Regions from separate parts of the Homo sapiens genome. Here region 1 is linked to region 2. Evidence: fine-mapped expression QTL. A gene starts in region 2. The other region holds a variant in brackets. All regions are shown on one strand. Distances are between the middles of the regions.

The links.
Region 1: its variant is fine-mapped to the expression of GRAMD1B in whole blood (INTERVAL, PIP 0.98).

Annotation. Positions count from the first base shown.
Region 1 is chr11:123,455,464-123,464,795 of GRCh38, reverse strand. All of the region lies in intron 1 of GRAMD1B (GRAM domain containing 1B), which reads right to left. Among named protein-coding and RNA genes, the nearest start is that of GRAMD1B, 30 kb to the right of the region's middle. The variant C/A (reference allele first, on the strand shown) is at 5,209.
Region 2 is chr11:123,426,523-123,435,854 of GRCh38, reverse strand. It overlaps GRAMD1B (GRAM domain containing 1B), which reads right to left and starts at 5,586. Exons shown (of 20, transcript NM_001387025.1): 1 at 4,689-5,586. The coding sequence starts at 5,062. LOC124902776 (a long non-coding RNA gene) reads left to right here and starts at 4,641. Exons shown (of 2, transcript XR_007062928.1): 1 at 4,641-4,908; 2 at 7,039-9,332. RefSeq lists silencers at 4,959-5,008, 5,119-5,448.

The sequences.
Region 1 (9,332 bases), 29 kb before region 2:
TTATATTAGCTCCCACCTTTGAAACATCTTTTATATCCATCCTCTCCTCTCTATTCCTATTATCCTTGCTCTAGTCCAAATATCAGTACCACCTTGGCTGCATAAGAATCACCTGGAAACTTTTTAAGAAAAGAAAAAGGTTCCCATTCCCTCATTGATCCTGGATTCTGATTCAGGGGGCCTGGGTTGGAGCCTGAAGGAGTTTTAACAGGCATCTCAGGTTTGAAAACTACTGACATCCCACTCTATTGAAACGGTCCTTTATCTGTGCTGACAAATGTTTAACAACTAGATTGGTGGAGGGGGCTGATTTATATTATTTGCCAATTTCTGCCATGTATACTCCCACCATGATTGATTTCTGCTATCGGTGAAATTGGCATTGGGAAATGATATGCACAATCGGCGTCTACAAGTGGATGCCAGCTGGCCCCAGCATGCTAATGTGCCTAGATGTTATTATTATTATTATCATTATTACTATTTTAGAGGCCAAGTCTTGCTAGCTCTGTCTCCCAGGCTGGGGTGCAGTGGCATGAACATGGCTCACTGCAGTCTTCAACTCCCAGGCTCAAGCAATCCTTCCACCCCAGCCTGCCGAGTAGCTGGGACCACAGGTGTGCACCACCACACCCAGCTAAATTTTTTTTTTTTTTTTAGAAATGGGGTCTCCCTTTGTTGCCCAGGCTGGTCTTGAGCTCCTCGGCTCAAGCGACCCTCCCACCTTGGCCTCCCAAAGTGCTGGGATTACAGGCATGGCCCACCCCTGTTATCTTCTAAAACAGCTCTAGTCAAGTCTCTTCCCAAGTTACAGTCTCTTGAAGTCTTCCTATAATGTCATAGAATACAGTCCAAAGTTTTCTGCCTGCCACACAAGGCCTTACTACATGAAACTGACTTCCCCAGCAGAAAGCTCTTCCTGAGGCCTTTACACAGTTTTCCTTTCTGGGGCTCGTGCTCCCCAAATCTCCCATGCACATTCATTCCTGCAACTTCGTGCATGTTGTGCTCTCCACTTTCTCTTCATTTCCCTTCTATATGATCCATATCTTCCACCCTGGCCTATTGGGCGCTGTGTCACACAGAGGCCTGTCCCTTCCCTTGGTGCATTCAAATATTAACTCATTGACTTTTTTCTCTGCTGACCCAGAGCTCTGTCTCCTTTGAGCCATAGGACTAATGACAAATCCAAGTTGGCACAGTTATTACCAGTGAGACGGTAGCTCTGCCCGTGTGGTGGAGAGAACCTGTTGGCTACATCAGAGAACACCTCCTTTAGTGCAAACTCTGGCTGCTTTTTTCAATTCATTCAAGATACTGCATACTAATATGTTGTATTTAATACTAGGAATAAACCTTCCCATTAAAACACTTCTTCCCCATCTACAAAGTGCTCCCATGTATATGCTTCCAACTTTTTACCCTCATCAGGTAAATAAGAAGTGTATACACTCTGATCCCCATTTTAAAGATGAAGAAAATAGGCTGGGCACGGTGGCTCATGCCTGTAATCCCAGCAATTTGGGAAGCCAAGGCGGGTGGATCACTTGGGGCCAGGAGTTGGAGACCAGCCTGGCCAACGTGGTGAAACCCCGACTCTACTGAAAATATAAAAAATTAGTCAGGCGTGGTGGTGGCCCATGCCTGTAGTTCCAGCTACTCGGGAGGCTGAGGCATGAGAATCACTTGAACCTAGGAGGCAGGGGTTGCGGTGAGCCGAGATCGCGCCATCGCACTCCAGCCTGGGTGACAAAGTGAGACTCCATCTTAAAATAAATAAATAAATATAAATAAATAATAAAGATGAAGAAAATAAGACTTCACAGGGATACATGGCACGTCTATGAGCAAACTGTGCTGGTAAGCTAAGAAACAGGGATTTCTTTTTTTTTTTTTTTTTTTTTAATTTATTTTTTTATTGATAATTCTTGGGTGTTTCTCACAGAGGGGGATTTGGCAGGGTCATGGGACAATAGTGGAGGGAAGGTCAGCAGATAAACAAGTGAACAAAGGTCTCTGGTTTTCCTAGGCAGAGGACCCTGCGGCCTTCCGCAGTGTTTGTGTCCCTGATTACTTGAGATTAGGGATTGGTGATGACTCTTAACGAGCATGCTGCCTTCAAGCATCTGAGAAACAGGGATTTCAGTTTAAGGTTTTTTGTCCCTGAATTCTTTATTCTTTCACCTTAAGCACACTCCAGTGCTGGAGCGTAGCATTCACTTGGAGAAGGGGTGGGTGGCAGGGATAACCTCACTGATGAGACTGAAGGGACTCTGAGCTTGGGCTGGGACTCAGGGGCTGAGCTGAGCTTGAATGTTCACTCTGCCACAAGTGTCAGCCGTCTCTGCTTTGCAGGTGGCAGCCCTCAGCTAGAAAGCAAGAGCATCTGGGAAGTCCAAGGCAAGTGAAAACCTTGAAACAAGAAGTAACGAGTCTGCTCTGCCCAGTTTGAGGCAGTTTGTCAGGGGATGGCACCTGCCACTGAGGTCACAAAGCCACAGGTGAAACCATAGAAATAAACAAATGACTGGCCCGGCACGGTGGCTCACACCTGTAATCCCAGCACTTTGGGAGGCCAAGGCGGGCAGATCACGAGGTCAGGAGATCGAGACCATCCTGGCTAACATGGTGAAACCTCATCTCTACTAAAAATACAGAAAAATTGGCCAGGCATGGTGGCGGGCGCCTGTGGTCCCAGCTACTCGGGAGGCTGAGGCAGGAGAATGGCGTGAACCCAGGAGGTGGACCTTGCAGTGAGCCAAGACCGTGCCACTGCACTCCAGCCTGGGCGACAGAGCAAGATCCCATTTCAAAAAAAAAAAAAAAAAGAAATAAACAAATGACCATACCAGAAAAAAAAAAAACCTGCACTTGAAAGTAGAGCTATCTTGGCCGGGCGCAGTGGCTCATGCCTGTAATCCCAGCACTTTGGGAGGCTGAGGCGGGGGTATCGCATGAGGTCAGGAGTTTGAGACCAGCCTGGCCAACATGGTGAAACCCCCGTCTCTACTAAAAATACAAAAATTAGCCGAGTGTGGTGGTGGACACCTGTAATCCCAGCTACTCGGGAGGCTAAGGCAGAAGAATCACTTGAACCCAGGAGGCAGAGGTTGCAGTGAGCCGAGATCACGCCATTGCACTGCAGCCTGGGCAACAAGAACGAAACTCTGTCTCAAAACAAAACAACAACAACAACAAAAAGTAGAGCTGTCTCAACAACCAGCTGGGGAAGAAACCATAGACAATCCAAAAAAGACAGAGCAGTGTGCCAAGGCATAGGCCAGGACTTCCCAGAGCTAGAGCCAGGGCTGGAGAGACTTCTAGGAGGCCAGTGACGTTTGGCCTGCAGCCCAAGGGGGAGTCTTTGGGAACCAGAGAGGCCAGCACCACCTCATTTAGCCACAAGGACAGGAATCACAAGGGCTCGGCCAGCTGCAGACAGAAATGCTGGTGCCCTGGGGGACTCTTAGGAAACAGTCCTGGTAGCAGTGCCAGCTTGGCTTTTCTGCCAGCTGAAGTCAACATAGCTTGATTTAGGAGCCAACCTGGAGTCAGTCGGGGCAGCTGATTCCCCAGAAAGACGACTGAACTGACAAGAACATTTTAGAAGCAGCCCAGGCAACAGGAGCACTGGTCCATTCACATCTGATTGAAGACCAAACTCAATTAAGACTCAATATGTTTTTAAGACATTTTTTATGACTATGGCTTCCCAACTGGCTATTAATTTTGCTATCACCTGTTTCCCTCTAGTCAACACAAGCCAAACCTCTTAAAAAGCCAAAAATATGTGAATTCCAAAAGGTCACGAGGTGGGAAAGACACAGAGAGCCTTGTGTTCTTCCTGGACGGCCCAGGAAAGAGGCGCCCAAGGAAAGGAGAAGCTGATGCACCTGGGAAGGCAGATGGATTCTTGGGTCCTAAAGGGACAAAGGAAACGTAGGAGCAGGGGATTCATGCAGAAACCCTATCAAAGACCAACCGCTCTAGTGACCTCGGAGCTCAAGGACAAGCAGCCCGCAAGCTGTGCTGTTTTCCAGAAAGAATCCTTTCAGCTTCCTGCCTCCCCTTCCCTGCCCCACTCCTGTCCGCCCCCCAAATCCTGCTGACCCAACCACCATCCAATTTCATTTGCCCTTAGCCCCGGGAAAAACTGGCTTATGGTAAAAGCATTATCTTGTTTTTTCCAATTGGAAGACATAAAAACAGTCCTAACCAAAAACTCTGGTCATTAACACTCACAGAGTGCCCTGGGGGGCCTGGGGAGAAATCCCCGCATTGACTGGGGCTGGAGTCACGGTGTCTAGGTGTAATTGCCACAAATCTGCCCAATCACGCTCCTGGCCTATATCCAATTAACCCTCTTCAAGTTCAGTCCCGGAACCCACTGAACTTGGACAAGAACATAAAAAGGATTTTGATGGTCCACAAAGTAGATAATTCATGTACTTTAATTCATCTACTATATTTTCTACTATATTCATCTACTATAATTCATCTGTTTCCACAATGCCATTTTCCACTCAGGATTAAACTCCATGTCTTCTCTGCCAAGCACTTTGACAGCCTTCTGATAAGCTTGTCATACCACACATGGTCACTTTTCAGTAGCATGGAGGCAACAGGTACTGGATAATTCAGGATATCGAGCAGAAGAAAACAGAAGTTGACTAATCCACAAACCATTTATTTTTAGTTTGAGAATTTTAATGAAACACACACACACGTATGTCCAATCACACTCCTGGCCTATATCCAATTAACTCTCTTCAAGTTCAGTTCTGGGACCCACTGAACTTGAAGGGACAAGGGTGAGGACAAGGACATAAAAATGGACAAGAACATAAAAAGGATGTTGATGCTCCATAAAGTAAATAATTCATTCACTCAGAAAACACTTTTTGAATGGCAATCTGTACACAGAAAACAGATGAGAGGCAAGCTTTGGGTGAGCCAGGTGTCCAGTGAGAAGGTAGCAGAACAAATTTACCTAAGACCCAGCCCTGCCCTCCAGAACCTCAGTGTGTGTTTAGGAACAGGACTTAAAGTATAAAGATAGTTGTGAATAACCAGTTCACATCATAGGGGAAGGGTCAACTAACAGGTATTTGAGTACCTAGTATATGGATTTTTTGCACACTATCTCACTTAAAAGTCAGTATTTGAAGAAAATAATATTCTTCTCTCTCTTTTTTATCAAACTCAATT[C/A]TTTTATCTTCAATTCCTTTAAATCATGAATATGGCCGACCACAGTGGTGCATGCCTGTAATCTCAACAATTTGGGAGGCCGAGGTGGGTGGATCATCTGAAGTCGGGAGTTGGAGACCAGCCTAGACAACATGGCAAAACCCCACCTCTATTAAAAATAGAAAATTAGCCAGGTATGGTGGCTCACACCTGTAATCCCAGCTACTCTGGAGGCTGAGGCAGGAGAATTGCTTGAACCCAGGAGATGGAGGTTGCAGTGAGCCCAGATCATGCCACTGCACTCTCGCCTGGGTGACAAAAGCAAAACTCCATCTCAAAAAAAAAAAAAGAAGATAAGGGTTCATGAAGATTTTCCCATGATCAGCAAATTAAAAAAAAATATATAGAAGTGTCTTATTTCTTTGCAATCAAATACCCCAATCTGCCCTAACTCCAAGGGCTGGTCACCATAACTATAACCCATCTACAATGCAGTGCATGTTCTTTGTCATCTACACAGCCTCTGCTACAACAAGCTCCTAGAAACACTTTTCCAAACTCATGGCTAGGAAGGCCATTGTGTCTGTGATTGTCTGAATATTCTGTTAACTCCGCTGTGTATTACGGTGTGCATTAAGCATTAAAGTGATTGTTCTCACTGAGCTCAGACTCAGAGTTGGGGGGAAATTACAGGAGCACAAAGGACTAGCCCCAAAAGAACCTCCACTTCAATCACCAAGCCATACCTGGAACTACCCATTTGCAGACTTGAAATTTGAAAATAACCCACCCGTATACACACTCTACATGTTGAGAGATACTTGTTCTTATCACTCAGAATGCTCCCATTCTCCTGGAATTTTTTGCCCATTACTCACATTGGGGAGTATGAAGAGGAGGGGAAAAAAAAAAAAAAACAAAACAGCCTTTCACTGTTTCCTTATCTAGGATACTGTTCATCCTATAAATCAAAAAAGGGATTTGCATCAAATTCTTTATGACCATTTTCTTCTCAGATTGATTTTAGTGAGAAGGTAATTGTGATGGTTAATTTTAGGTGTCAGTTTGACTGGATTAAAGACTACCTAGGAACCCGGTAAAGCATTATTTTTGGGCGTGTCTGTGAAGATGTTGCCAGAAGAGATCAGCATGTGAGTCTGAGTGGACTAGGTGCGGAAGATCCGCCCTCATTGTGAGTGGGCACCATCCATTCTGCTGGGGGCCTGGAAAACAAAAACTGAGAAAAGGTGAATATGTGAATGGAACTGCCAGAGTTGGATTATATTCTTCCTCTCTCTGTCCCTCAGTGGCTCTCTGAGTTCTAGGCCTTTGGCCTCAAACCGAGAGTTACAACATCAGCTTCTCTGGTTCTGAGGCCTGCAGACTTGGACTGAGCCACGCTACCAGCATCCCAGGGTCTCCGGTGTGTTGTGGGACTTCTCAGCCTCCATAATCATGTAAGCCAATTCCCCTAATCCCCTCCCCTCTCCTCTCTCTCTCTCTCAGAACTCCAACTAGGTTCTGTGTAGCATACATACGCACTTATCGTGGAGTCATGCATAAAGTGGTACTCATCTATTTAAAATATGTGGCAGCCAGGCATGGTGGCTTACGCCTGTAATCCCAACATTTTGGGAGGCCGAGGCAGGAGGATTCCTTGAGCCCAGGAGTTCAAGACCACCTTGGATAACATAGCAGGACCCTGTCTCTACAAAAAAGTGGAGAAATTAGCCAGGTGCGGTGGTGCATGCCTGTAGTCTCAGCTACTCAGAAGCTGAGGTAGGAGGATCACTTGAGCCCAGGAGGTCGTGGCTGCAGTAAGCGTGATTGCACCAGCGCACTCCAGCCCAGGCGATAGAGTGAGACCCCATCTCAAAAAACAAATACATAAAATAAAATATGTGGAAAATAGAGCACGGAGCACAGTGGAGCAATAGCACCAGAGCCAGGCTCATAAGGCTGGGTCCAGCACTGACTCTGTCATGGACTCCGTAGAACACAGAGCAAGTTGCCCCATTGTTCTGAACTTCAGTTTGCTTATCTGTAAAATGAACAGAGTGTGCTAGACAATCACATAGGCCCTGTCTAGCCTTAAAAGTCCCATGACGCTAAGCTAAGAAATCTTCCATTAAGCCTGTTTGAAGGCTAAGTGGAAGACACAAAGATTGAGAAAGAAGGGAGTTGCTGGCTATTCTAAAACACGTGAACTAAACCACGAGGGTAGGCTGACGCTGGCTGGACAGTGGGGAAAGAATAGCAGTCTAAGAACAAACGTGGTTTAGAGGCAGCTAACAGAGACACAGAAATGTGGCTTCCTGGTTCACTTCCTGTATGCTCATTTGATAAGTGTGTCCTTTAACTGTTACTCTCTTTCCAGGTTATCATTTTATAACAATCTCTAATTTTATTAATAAAATCATGAGCCGATACTTCACAGCAGGAAGGGATTCGAGGGATAAACTGTTCTAATTCTTTCTTTCTTTCTTTCTTTTTTTCTCAGAAAGGGTCTCTCTCTGTCACCCAGGTTAGAGTGCAGTGGTGCCATCACAGCTCACTGCAGCCTTGACCTCCTGGGCTTAAGCAATCCTCCCATCTCAGCCTCCCGAGTACCTGGGACCACAGGCATGAGGCATGTGCCACCACACCTAGTTCTTTCTTTCTTTTCTTTTTCTTTTTTTTTTTTTTTTTTGAGACAGAGTCTCCCTCTGTCGCCCAGGCTGGAGTACAGTGGCGCCATCTCAGCTCACAGCAACCTCTGCCTCCCAGGTTCAAGTGATTCTCCTGCCTCAGCCTCCACAGTAGCTGGGACTACAGGTGTGCACCACCACACCTGGCTAATTTTTGTATATTTAGTAGAGACGGAGTTTCATCATTTTGACCAGTCTGGTCTCAAACTCCTGACCTCAAGTGATCTGCCTGACTCAGCCTCCCAAAGTGCTGGAATTATAGGCGTGAGTCATTGCGCCTGGCCACACCTGGTTATTTTCTGTATTTTCTGTAGAGACGAGGTCTCATGACATTGCCCAGGCTGGTCTCAAATTCAGGGGCTCAAGTGATCTGCCTGCCTCAGCCTCCCAAAGTGCTGGGATTATAGGCATGCGCCACCACACTTGGCCCCAATTTTTTCTTTTTCAAACAGGAAACCAACAGCCCAAAGAAGGTAAATGACAAGTGTAAAGTCACAGAGGTATTTAGTAGCACTGCAAAGAATAAAACTCGAGTTTGCTGACTCTCGGGGCTCTTTCCACAACACCAATGCTGCCCTTAGAGAACAAGAATGTCAAACTCCTGGTGGGCAGAGAAGGCATCTGAAACTTTTTTCTTAACCCTCTGGTGCTTCTGCTGACAAGAAGGATAACTGTTAACAGTTGCTCATTCTATAAAATGGATATGCCATTGTTGAGTGTGTTGTTCTTTTTTGTTTTGTTTTGTTTTTGAGACAGTCTCTCTCTGTCGCCCAGGCTGGAGTACAGTGGTGCAATCTTGGCTCACTGCAACCTCCCTCCACCTCCCTGGTTCAAGCGATTCTCGTGCCTCAGGCTTCCGAGTAGCTGGGATTACAGGTGTGTGCCACCACACCCAGCTAATTTTTTGTATTTTTAGTAGAGACAGGATTTCACCATGTTGGTCAGGCTGGTCTCGAACTCCTGACCTCAAATGATCCGCCCACCTTGGCCTCCCAAAGTGCTGGGACTACAGGAGCGAGCCACCCCACCCGGCCTGGTTGAGTGTTTTCTATATGCCAGGCTGTTTTCTAACCACTGGGAACACAGTAATAAACAGATGGGGCAAAGGTCCCTGCTCTCAAGGACCTCAAATTCTTATGGTTTAGCAGAAGGGATGCAGAAATGAGAGACAGATCATCAACAGAGAAAAATAAAAGAAGATGATAATTTCAGAAGTACAAAGTGTTATAAAGACAATAAAGCTGAAGAATGTAGCCTCAAAAAAGCTAAAAAATATGTTAAGGGCAGAGAGTAAGTGGCAGAGCCTGGACAGAATCCATGCAGATCACTCCAGAGTCCGTGGCTTTGCAAACTATGCCGTATTGCATGGTGAGCGCAGCAGTTCGATAGCAAGTAGAGGATGAATGATCAATTGAGTGGAATGCATATCATCAGAAGGGGTTCCAGTGTAATTTTAAT
Region 2 (9,332 bases):
CCACTGAATTATGCTTTAAATAGGTGAATTGTATATTATATAAATTATATCTCAATAAAGCTGTTTTTAAAAACTCAGCTCTGTACTCATCTCCTTTTGGAAATTTTCCCACACTCATGAATAAAAGAATTTCACTTTAAACAGTAGAGAAAAAGGAATCATTTATTTACTCATTATTAACTCATCAACAAACATCTATAGATCTATAGATCACTGTAAGAGGTCAGGTACAGTGCTGTGACGATACAAAGATGAACATGATTGGTCTTGGAGTATTCCAGTGAACACTGGAAAGTTAGTAAGCCATGCTGTCTTTACCATTTGTTCCACTTCTTCCTTCCTAGGGTTTAAGGAGAAGAAAAGGGTCTCCTAATCCTCTTCATATTTTCAACTTTGTGCAGTGAAAATCCGCAAGCTTGAGCTTCAAGTCAGTGACAAGTAAAAAAACAAACAAACAAACAAATAATGAAACAAATAATGAAAAAACAAAAATTAAAAGAAATCCACAAGCTATGGCCCTCTCAGCCACTTAACTTCTACCACATCACGCTGAATTTCATAGCAAGCCTGAAAGGTGTTTTTCTCTCTTTTGGAGCAGGAGATTTGGGGTGGGGAATGTGGAGACGTCATGCTGGGCCTGGTATGCTAATCCTCCCTAATCCAGGCCAGAGCAGAGCCATTTTCCAACCATCATTTCCAAATCCTGAATTGTGTGAGGAGGCTCAGGTGCTGCTCCAGGACACGTGAGTATGTAACCTCATACTTTTAAGCAAACATCCATTCCATGTGAGAGACTCACAGAGTAATGAAATAAGCCTTCACCCTTGCACAGCAAGAGGAAGTTTGCAAAACATTTTCACATTCACTACTCTTCAGACTTCCCATTAACCCACAGAGATCCTCTTCCACAAATGAAGAAGGTGAAACTCATGGAGGTAAAGTGAAATGCTCAAGCTAATCTCCATAGCTAATCGATGATAGAACTTAAATATACAGCTGTCTTCTGATATTAAGTCCAATGTTCCCTGCACTCCATTGCCTCTAAATGCCAATTCTATTTTCTTTTGGAAATGGAGTCTTGCTCTGTCGCCCAGGCTGGAGTGCAGTGGTGTGATCTCAGCTCACTGAAACCTTTGCCCACAAAGTTCAAGCAATTCTCATGCCTCAGCCTCCTGAGTAGCTGGGATTACAGGCGCGCACTACCATGTCCAGCTAATTTTTGTATTTTTAGTAGCAACAGGGTTTTGCCATGTTGGCTAGGCTGGTCTCGAACTCCTGGCCTCAAATGATCTGCCTCCTCAGCCTCCCAAAGTGCTGGGATTACAGGCATGAGCTACCACACCCCGCCACCAATTCCTTCTCAGGCCACTTGGTGGTATCTACGAGCACCTATTCACTTGATTGCTGCTTTTCTTGGAAGGAAGCCTTTCATCTTCGAGGCCTAAAAATGATGGGGCTTTGTTTTACACACAATCCAAATAGATTCCAACAGAAGGCAGTATAACAGTAGCTAAGAGTAGATGTGAGTCACACGAATTTGAATTTGAATCCAGAGTCTGCCTTTTCAGATACATATGTTCTTGTTTTTTGTTGGTGGTGGTTTTTTTTTTTTTTTTTTTTTTTTGGAAACGGAGTCTCACTCTGTTGCCCAGGCTGGAGTGCAGTGGCGAGATCTCGGCTCACTGCAACCTCCACCTCCTAGGTTCAAGCAATTCTCCTGCCTCAGCCTCCCGAGTAGCTGGGACTACAGGTGTCCACCACCACACCTGGCTAATTTTTGTATTTTTAGTAGAGACGGTGTTTCTCCGTGTTGCCCAAGTTGGTGGCTAACTCCTGAGCTCAGGCAATCTGCCTGCCTCATCCTCCCAAAGTGCTAGGATTACAGGCGTGAGCCACTGCGCCCGGCTGATACATAGGTTCTTCTAATCCAAAAGTCACCACTTAAAATAACTGCCTGAACTACATCTAGATGAAAATCCTGCCAAATTTTAAGGATATGTCCCCAAATCCAACAAAATGAAGGTTCCACTACACACATAGACAACTCTCGAAACCAGGAATACCTTCCTAAATCTAACCAAATCTACTGTCATCCCCATCCTAGCCAGCAATGCAAGATTTTTTTCTTCATACACACAAAGACACACACACACACACACACACACACACACACACGCACGTAACATTTTAAGCGTTGGGGGTGGGGGTCTCACCATGGCTGAAATGCAGTGGTTATTCACAGGCACCATTATAGCCTACTAAAGCCTTGAACTCTTGGGCTCATGTGATCCTCACACCACAACCCAAGTAGCTGGGAATACAGGCCATGCCATTGCACCCGGCTCTTTTTACCATATTTTGTCCTCAGTATATATGGCAGAATCTCAAGATCAAAAGAAGGTCTCTTTTAGTTTCTTTTACATTGGAGGGAAAAGCCGACAAGCCATGACAAACTACTTTATTTATTTATTCATTTAAGATGAAGTTTCGCTCTTGTTGCCCAGGCTGGAGTGCAATGGCGCGATCTTGGCTCACTGCAACCTCCACCTCCCGGGTTCAAGCAATTCTCCCGCCTTGGCCTCCCGAGTAGCTGGGATTACAGGCACCCGCTACTACACCTGGCTAATTTTTTGTATTTTTAGTAGAGACAGGGTTTCACCATGTTGGCCAAGCTGGTCTCGAACTCCTGACCTCAGGTGACCCTCCCGCCTCACCTCAGGTGACCCTCCCGCCTCAGCCTCCCAAAGTGCTGGGATTACAGGCATTAGCCACCGCCCCTGGCCTGACAAACTACTTTAGTTCAAGGTTAGCTCCCACCAAGCTTGCCCCATTTCCCTCTACTCTGTGAAAAGGGTAGCAGGATGAAGTACCAAACAGAAAGAACTTCTATCCCCAGCGTCCACAAAAATCCACGGAACAAAGCTCTGTATCTGCACCTGCTGAGAGAACCATGCTCAGTTGTTGCAAACAGAAAAGATAAACTCTGGAAGGCCCAAAATGCCCATCTTCTGCATAACGGATCCTACTCCTCAGTCCCCACCCCGCAAAGACACATGGCTCATCCTGTTTCTCCTGCCATTCTTCATATTGTTCCCTTCAGCCAGTCTTATGCACCCAACCTCATTCTTTTCCTGCTGTTTTCTACTACCCATCTGTATTTGTCATGGTGTCAGCCTCTTCCTTCAAGAAGTCTTCCTCTACTTCTCCAGAACTCTCTCTTTTCTAGTACAATCAGTACCACACAGCACAGTATGTTTTCCAATGGCTCCCACAGGTCTTCAATTTTTTTTTTTTTTTTTGAGACAGAGTCTCACTCTGTGGCCCAGGCTGGAGTGCAGTGGCACAGTCTTGGCTCACTGCAGCCCCTGTACCCAGGTTCAAGCGATTCTCTTGCCTCAGCCTCCCAAGTAGTTGGGATTACAGGAGCCTGCCACTACACCCAGCTAATTTTTGTACTTTTAACAGAAATGGAGTTTCGCCATGTTGGCCAGGGTGGTCTCGAACTCCTGACCTCAAGTGATCCACACGCTTCGGCCTCCCAAAGTGCTGGGATTACAGGTGTGAGCCACTGTGCCCAGGTGTTCATTTCTTATACAAGCCTCCCCTCATCTTCCTTCTCAGCCTCTACAACCCCTTACTCTACCTATCCTTCCCCCACACCCTCCTCAACATCACCACTATTAGCTGTTACTAGACTGAGCTCACAGAAATATTCAGTAAGTACTTACTGAATTGAAATCAATGTAATTGAACAGATTTGGAGAAGGAATTCCAGGGAAAGTGATCAATGACTCAGTTGCTCCGCACAAGAACACAAATCCATTAAGAGACAGGACCCTAAAGTCTCAAAGTAAATATGTAGGATTCGTGGTACCGATGAACAAGTGAGGACTCCCTGCCCTCCACCAGGCAAGGGGCTTGGCTCAGACACAACTTCCTGAAGCAGCAGTCCTGACCAGGGCTGTGTAGAGCTGCTCTAGGGCGCCCTGCAGCAATTCTCTACGTGAGGGAAGCTCAACCTTCTCCCATTACCCAGATGCCACATTGACCTAGGCAAAAAACTAGCTGGTACAAACCACAGTCTTGTAGGTATCGATGTCTAAAGACTCTGATATGGTAGGAAATGTGACTCACTCAATGTCAATATTTCACTTCCACACAAGTGAGCCAGTTAAGGCAATCCGGTGTGGCCAAACATAAAATAAGATTGAAACGGAGTCCTGAAATATAAACCACTTAACTGTTCTCTGGCCTTTTACTATCTCCTTCTGTAGAAAGGGAGCCATAGTAATACCTACCTCAGAGAGTTTGCGTAGGGATGAAATCTGGAGGTACATGAAGTGCGCAACATAGTGGCCCGCACATGGTAAGGGCTCAATAACTATTAGCTGTTATTATTTTTATTATTTATTTCGCTGCGAGGATCAAGGGAGATGGAATGCAGCGTAAAGCCCCACGTAAACGTGTCGTGCAACATGAAGCCCCTCACCCTGAGTTGGGGAGCGGGTGGCACGCGTGGAAGCTGAATGCCACCATCCCTGGGACCAGGCGCAGCGCCCTCCAGAAGCGCCTCTGGTGACGGGCTCCTGTTCTCCCCCAGGACGTTTCCCCCAGAATGCCCCGGGGCCCTGGACGGCTCTGGAGAGGACGGGAGGGAAGGGAAGGAGACGGGCGGAACGGGGACGTACCTGCTTTCACTGCACTCCTTCCGCTCCCTCACCCTCAGCCACTTGCGGAGGAGGAAGCGTTTTCGGCGCGGGGACGCGCTGGGTGTGGAGCAGTTGGACCACGGGGTGTCCTCGTCGCTGGAGGGCGTGATCTCGATGGACGGCAGCTGCAGGAACTCCTTGCCGGGGGCCAAGACGGCGGGCAGGTCCCGGGCCAGCCCGGCCTCCAGGCTCTGCTCCTGTACGTTCTTCATGCGGCGCATCTTGAAGCGCCGGCGGCGAAGCGTGGGGGTCGACGAACTGGACCAGACCGGGCTGCCCTCGGGCGCACCCTGCGGCTCGGGCACCTGCAGGGCGGGCAGCGGCCGGTTCTCCATCATGTTGGCCGCCGGCATGGGGGCCGTCGCCTCTGCGCTCCCCCTGAGCCCTCCGCCAGCGGCCTGGTTCGCGTCTCCCTCTGGCTGTTCCCCACCCTCGGCCCCGCGGCACACTCCCCAATCCTGGGGCCGAAGGAACAAGTTCCTTTCCCGGAGCGCAGCGAGGAAGGGACGCGAGGGGACGCGGCGTAGCGCGCCGCCGCCCGGAGTCTAACTTTTCGGAGCGCGCGTCCTCCGGGCCGTCAGCCGCCGGCGAGGCCACCCGGGAGGGGCGGGAGCCGCCTGCCAGCCACTCGGCAGCCCTCCTGGGGCTCCCCTCGCGCGCCCGCTTGTTTTTCTTCCGCTGCGCTTCCTCGCTTGCTGGCGTCTTTGCCTTAGCGGGACTCGGCAGCCAGGGGCCCCAGGGGGCGGTGCAGCAAACTCTCAGCGGTTTGCGTTCAGCAGACCAGGTTGGGGAGCCGGCTTGGCGCTGCAGGGAGGTAGAGAGCGGGAGGAAGAGGCAGTGGTAGGAGGGAAAGGGAGAGAGAGACAGAGAGAGAGAGAGAGAGAGGAAGCGAGACACTGGATAAAAACAAAAAAGGAGGAGGAGGAGCGGGGGCTGGGGGCGGGGTGAGGGGGGCTATCCTGAATGGGCTAGCACTGGCAGCGACCGCTAGTGTAACTGTACACGGATTCCCTCGGGGAGGGACTCGACCTCCAAGTAAAGGCTGCTCCAATCAGCCTACTGAAATAGGATCACAAACCAAACTTTCTCAGGGCAACGATTGGCCAGGCAACTCCCATTAGTCGAACTCGGCTATTTCCTTGGGGGTGGGGGGTGCAGAGAAAGGGGAGTCAATGAATTCAGTCCTCACTCTCTCAGGCCACCCATGATACAGGGTTGAAGGAAAATGAGGAGACTTTTCAACTAGCTCTTGTCTCCTAAGAAAGGCAGTTTAAATTATTTGGGGGCGTGAGTAGTGGCACTGCAGGCCGGAGTATAGTCAGAGGAGGAAAGCAAGGTTGCTGGAGGCTGCTTCCAAAATGACAAGCTGAGAAGAGGACAGTTCTCCCGTGGCGGCGTGAGCTGAGGATACCAGACATGACATACCAAGGAAAGACAGACAACAGGGTCTGAGAGACAAAGGACACAGGACCAGTAAGGAAAATGGGGCCTGAACCCTGTACATGAGCCAGCTGCCAGTACCATAGCCGCGTCCCTAGCAAAGAATGAAATGAGGAGTCGGTGAGCACCCACAAAGCAATGCATCCAACAGAGCCCCAGGGAGTCGAGGGTACCCCCCCTTACATTGCTGAGGGCTGATTCAGTTCTGCTTCAGCCTGCCATGGACTGAGTCACAGAATCCAGTATGTCCCCATGTCATGGAACCTAGGAAGTCTGGTTCAGTCCTGGTAGCATCCCAAGATGTGCTGAACCACACTCACTCTCTAGACCCAGGCCCTAAGAGATCATCAACCCTAGAACCGATCCATCCTATTTAGGTGCTCTCTGTGGGCACTGAGTCTAACCCAGCCCAGCTCCTAGAGCAGGGCTGTAGCAGCCATTCTCCTCCTTCAACCCCAGCCCAATGCATTTGTCTCTTGGGTCAGTAACTGTTTTGTTTTGTTTTGTTTTTAAGAGACAAAGTCTCACTCTGTTGCCCAGGCTGGAGTGCAGTGGTGCAGTCATGGCTCACCGCAACCTTGAATTCCTGGGCTCAAGCTGTCCTCCCAGCTGAGCCTCCTGAGTAGCTGGGAGTACAGGTGCGCACCACCACACGCAGCTAAGTTTTATTTCTTTTTGTCGATATGAGGTCTTGCTATATTGCCCAGGCTGGTCTCAAACTCCTGGCCTCAAGTGATCTGCCCACCTTGGCCTCCCAAAGTGCTGAGATTACAGGCATGAGCCACCATGCCCAGCCTGGTCAGTAACTTTCAAAGAGATCATGAGAAGCACCCAAGAACATACCATGAAGTCCACAATCTGATCCACCCTTCTTTTCTGCCTCTCTCAGAGTCCAGTTTCCATCTGGGAGCCAATGCCCAGCTTCCGTGCCAGGACAAAAGTCACATTTCACAAGTGTCCCGAAGCTGAGGAAAATTCACATCCCTAAAGATCACAAGAATTCACTGCAAGTAAATACATCCCTGCAGTTCAGCAAGACATCAAGGATGACAGCTGGCTATGGATCTACCAAGCTCTGCAATGACACTTGTCAAGTATGGAAAAGCTCAAGGCATCCTGACATTACACAACTTTTGAGAGGCTGGGAAACCAAGGGAAATATTTCTTCCTCAGGGAGAGAGATACTGCGGCTGAAGAGCCAAGGCCAGGCCCTCCCATAAATGACTCCCTGGAATGTCAGCCCCCGTTTCTGAAATCCAGCCACTGGCCCTCTCAGGAGTGATTTGGTTTCACTCTACTTTAACTCCTGGACATAGCACAGAAAGCAGAAACCCCTTGCCATCAGGTGTCAGGCCTGCCAAGGTCACCTCTTCCGGCTCCAGGGATGCTGAGGAGATTGCACTGTAACTCCAAACTTCAGGATCGGGAGCTAAGCCAAGTTCCACAGAGTTTGTTCACTGCCTTGTACTTCCTCCAAGGACGAGTGTTTTGCAAGGGATCTGATAACTTCCCAGTTCAAGGAACCTGAGTTTTGGGCGGGCTCTTGACATAGAAGATGAGGGTCTCAGGGGCTTATGGGAAGAAAGGAAGCCAGGACACCACCATTCGCTTGGAGGCCAAAAACACAAAAGGATGGTCCACAAGACAGGGGCCAGAAGATTCTATGGGCAGCTTGGGAAGAGGGAGAAGAAACAAGGGAGGAAGCTTTAAGTTTGTTCTGGGCACTCTGAATTTAAGTGTATACCTCTTACAAGGAAGAAAAGCCACCAGCACCCTCTTCCCACACACTTCAGCCACTTTTCCCACTCACAGTAGATTCTGGAACTGAAATCCTGTGAGATTTAATTCAAGCCTTGGGCACAGCAGTGGCTAAGAGTGATCATTTACATTTCACCCGGCCTGAGGGAAAACCTCCAAGCAGGAATCTAAAATGTTTCACTTGATTGGGAAGCAGATACCCTGAGCTCTCTTAGCCTGAACGCTGTCCTTACTCACTTGCACCTGCAGTCCCTTCTTTTTTTCAAGCCATAACCCTTTTGACCGTTAAAACCCTGTTCAAAACACATCCTTCAGCCCTTTCCAGCTGTTTCTGTTGCCCATGGCTCTGGCAAGTAAGATAATAAATGAGGCACTGCTTTGAAATATGAAATGCCCTACAGCTGTGAGCCAACATTACTGTTAAGACTATAAGCTCCTTGAGAAAAGAATCAAGTTTCTCCTTCCTTTAATTCTCTCCAGTATCCTGTGCTTGTTATGTGTATGGTGACCTTTACACTTTTGGAAAGAGCTTTCATACATCACACTGTGTCTTCCCAGCGGCCTTTACAATTGATGAAAGTGGGACAGAGAGATTCAGTAGTTTATCCAAGGTCACAGATAAATGATGATGGCTAATCAATGACAAGGCCAGAATTGGAACTCATGCCTTCTGAAGCCAGTTTAGAGGCCTCCAAAAGTGTAGAGAAACAATTTCTCAAAGTAGCTGGTGCCAACATCAGAACCAAAGAGTTTTCATGCCCTGCGTCAGAATCTCAGCGATTGCACTTGCTCCCCAAGTCTCCCCACTCCCATATTTCTTCTCTCCAATATTTGGCTCTCAGCGACCGCACAGTTCTCTGTGAAACAGACCTCACCTTTGCCCCCATTCCCCGCTTCCCCAGACAGGTGGTAACCAGAACAACCCAGCCTCCCCTTTCCCCACCTGCAGCCAGGCCTCTGACTTTAAATGAAAGGAGGTCATATTACCAAGCAACTGTTGTTTATTCTCAGCTGCACAAGCTCCCTTTTCCTACAGACACAAGACACCCAACACCTGTCTATTACTTCTGGAGACTCATAAACTACTATTATTATTCAATTTCCAGGGGAAAACTTTAGTGAAACATAGTAGCTTCCAGACTAGATTTCTCCTGGGTACACATCCAAGTAAATGTGAACTGGAAGGCGCTGGCACCCCGGACACCTTATTGCACCTGCTCCAGGATGCCAAGGCAGGGAACTCCCAAAGACACAGGAATGTCTCCCCACAACACTGTTGTTGCAAGACAGACAATCCCCACTCTCAACACTGGGACACAGAGTCTCTCCCCTACACAACATTCGAACGGCCAATCCCAACGGTTGGCCCATTATGAGGGAAAGAAGCAGGCAGTGAGCATAGAAGAAGTGGAATTTGAGGCTGGC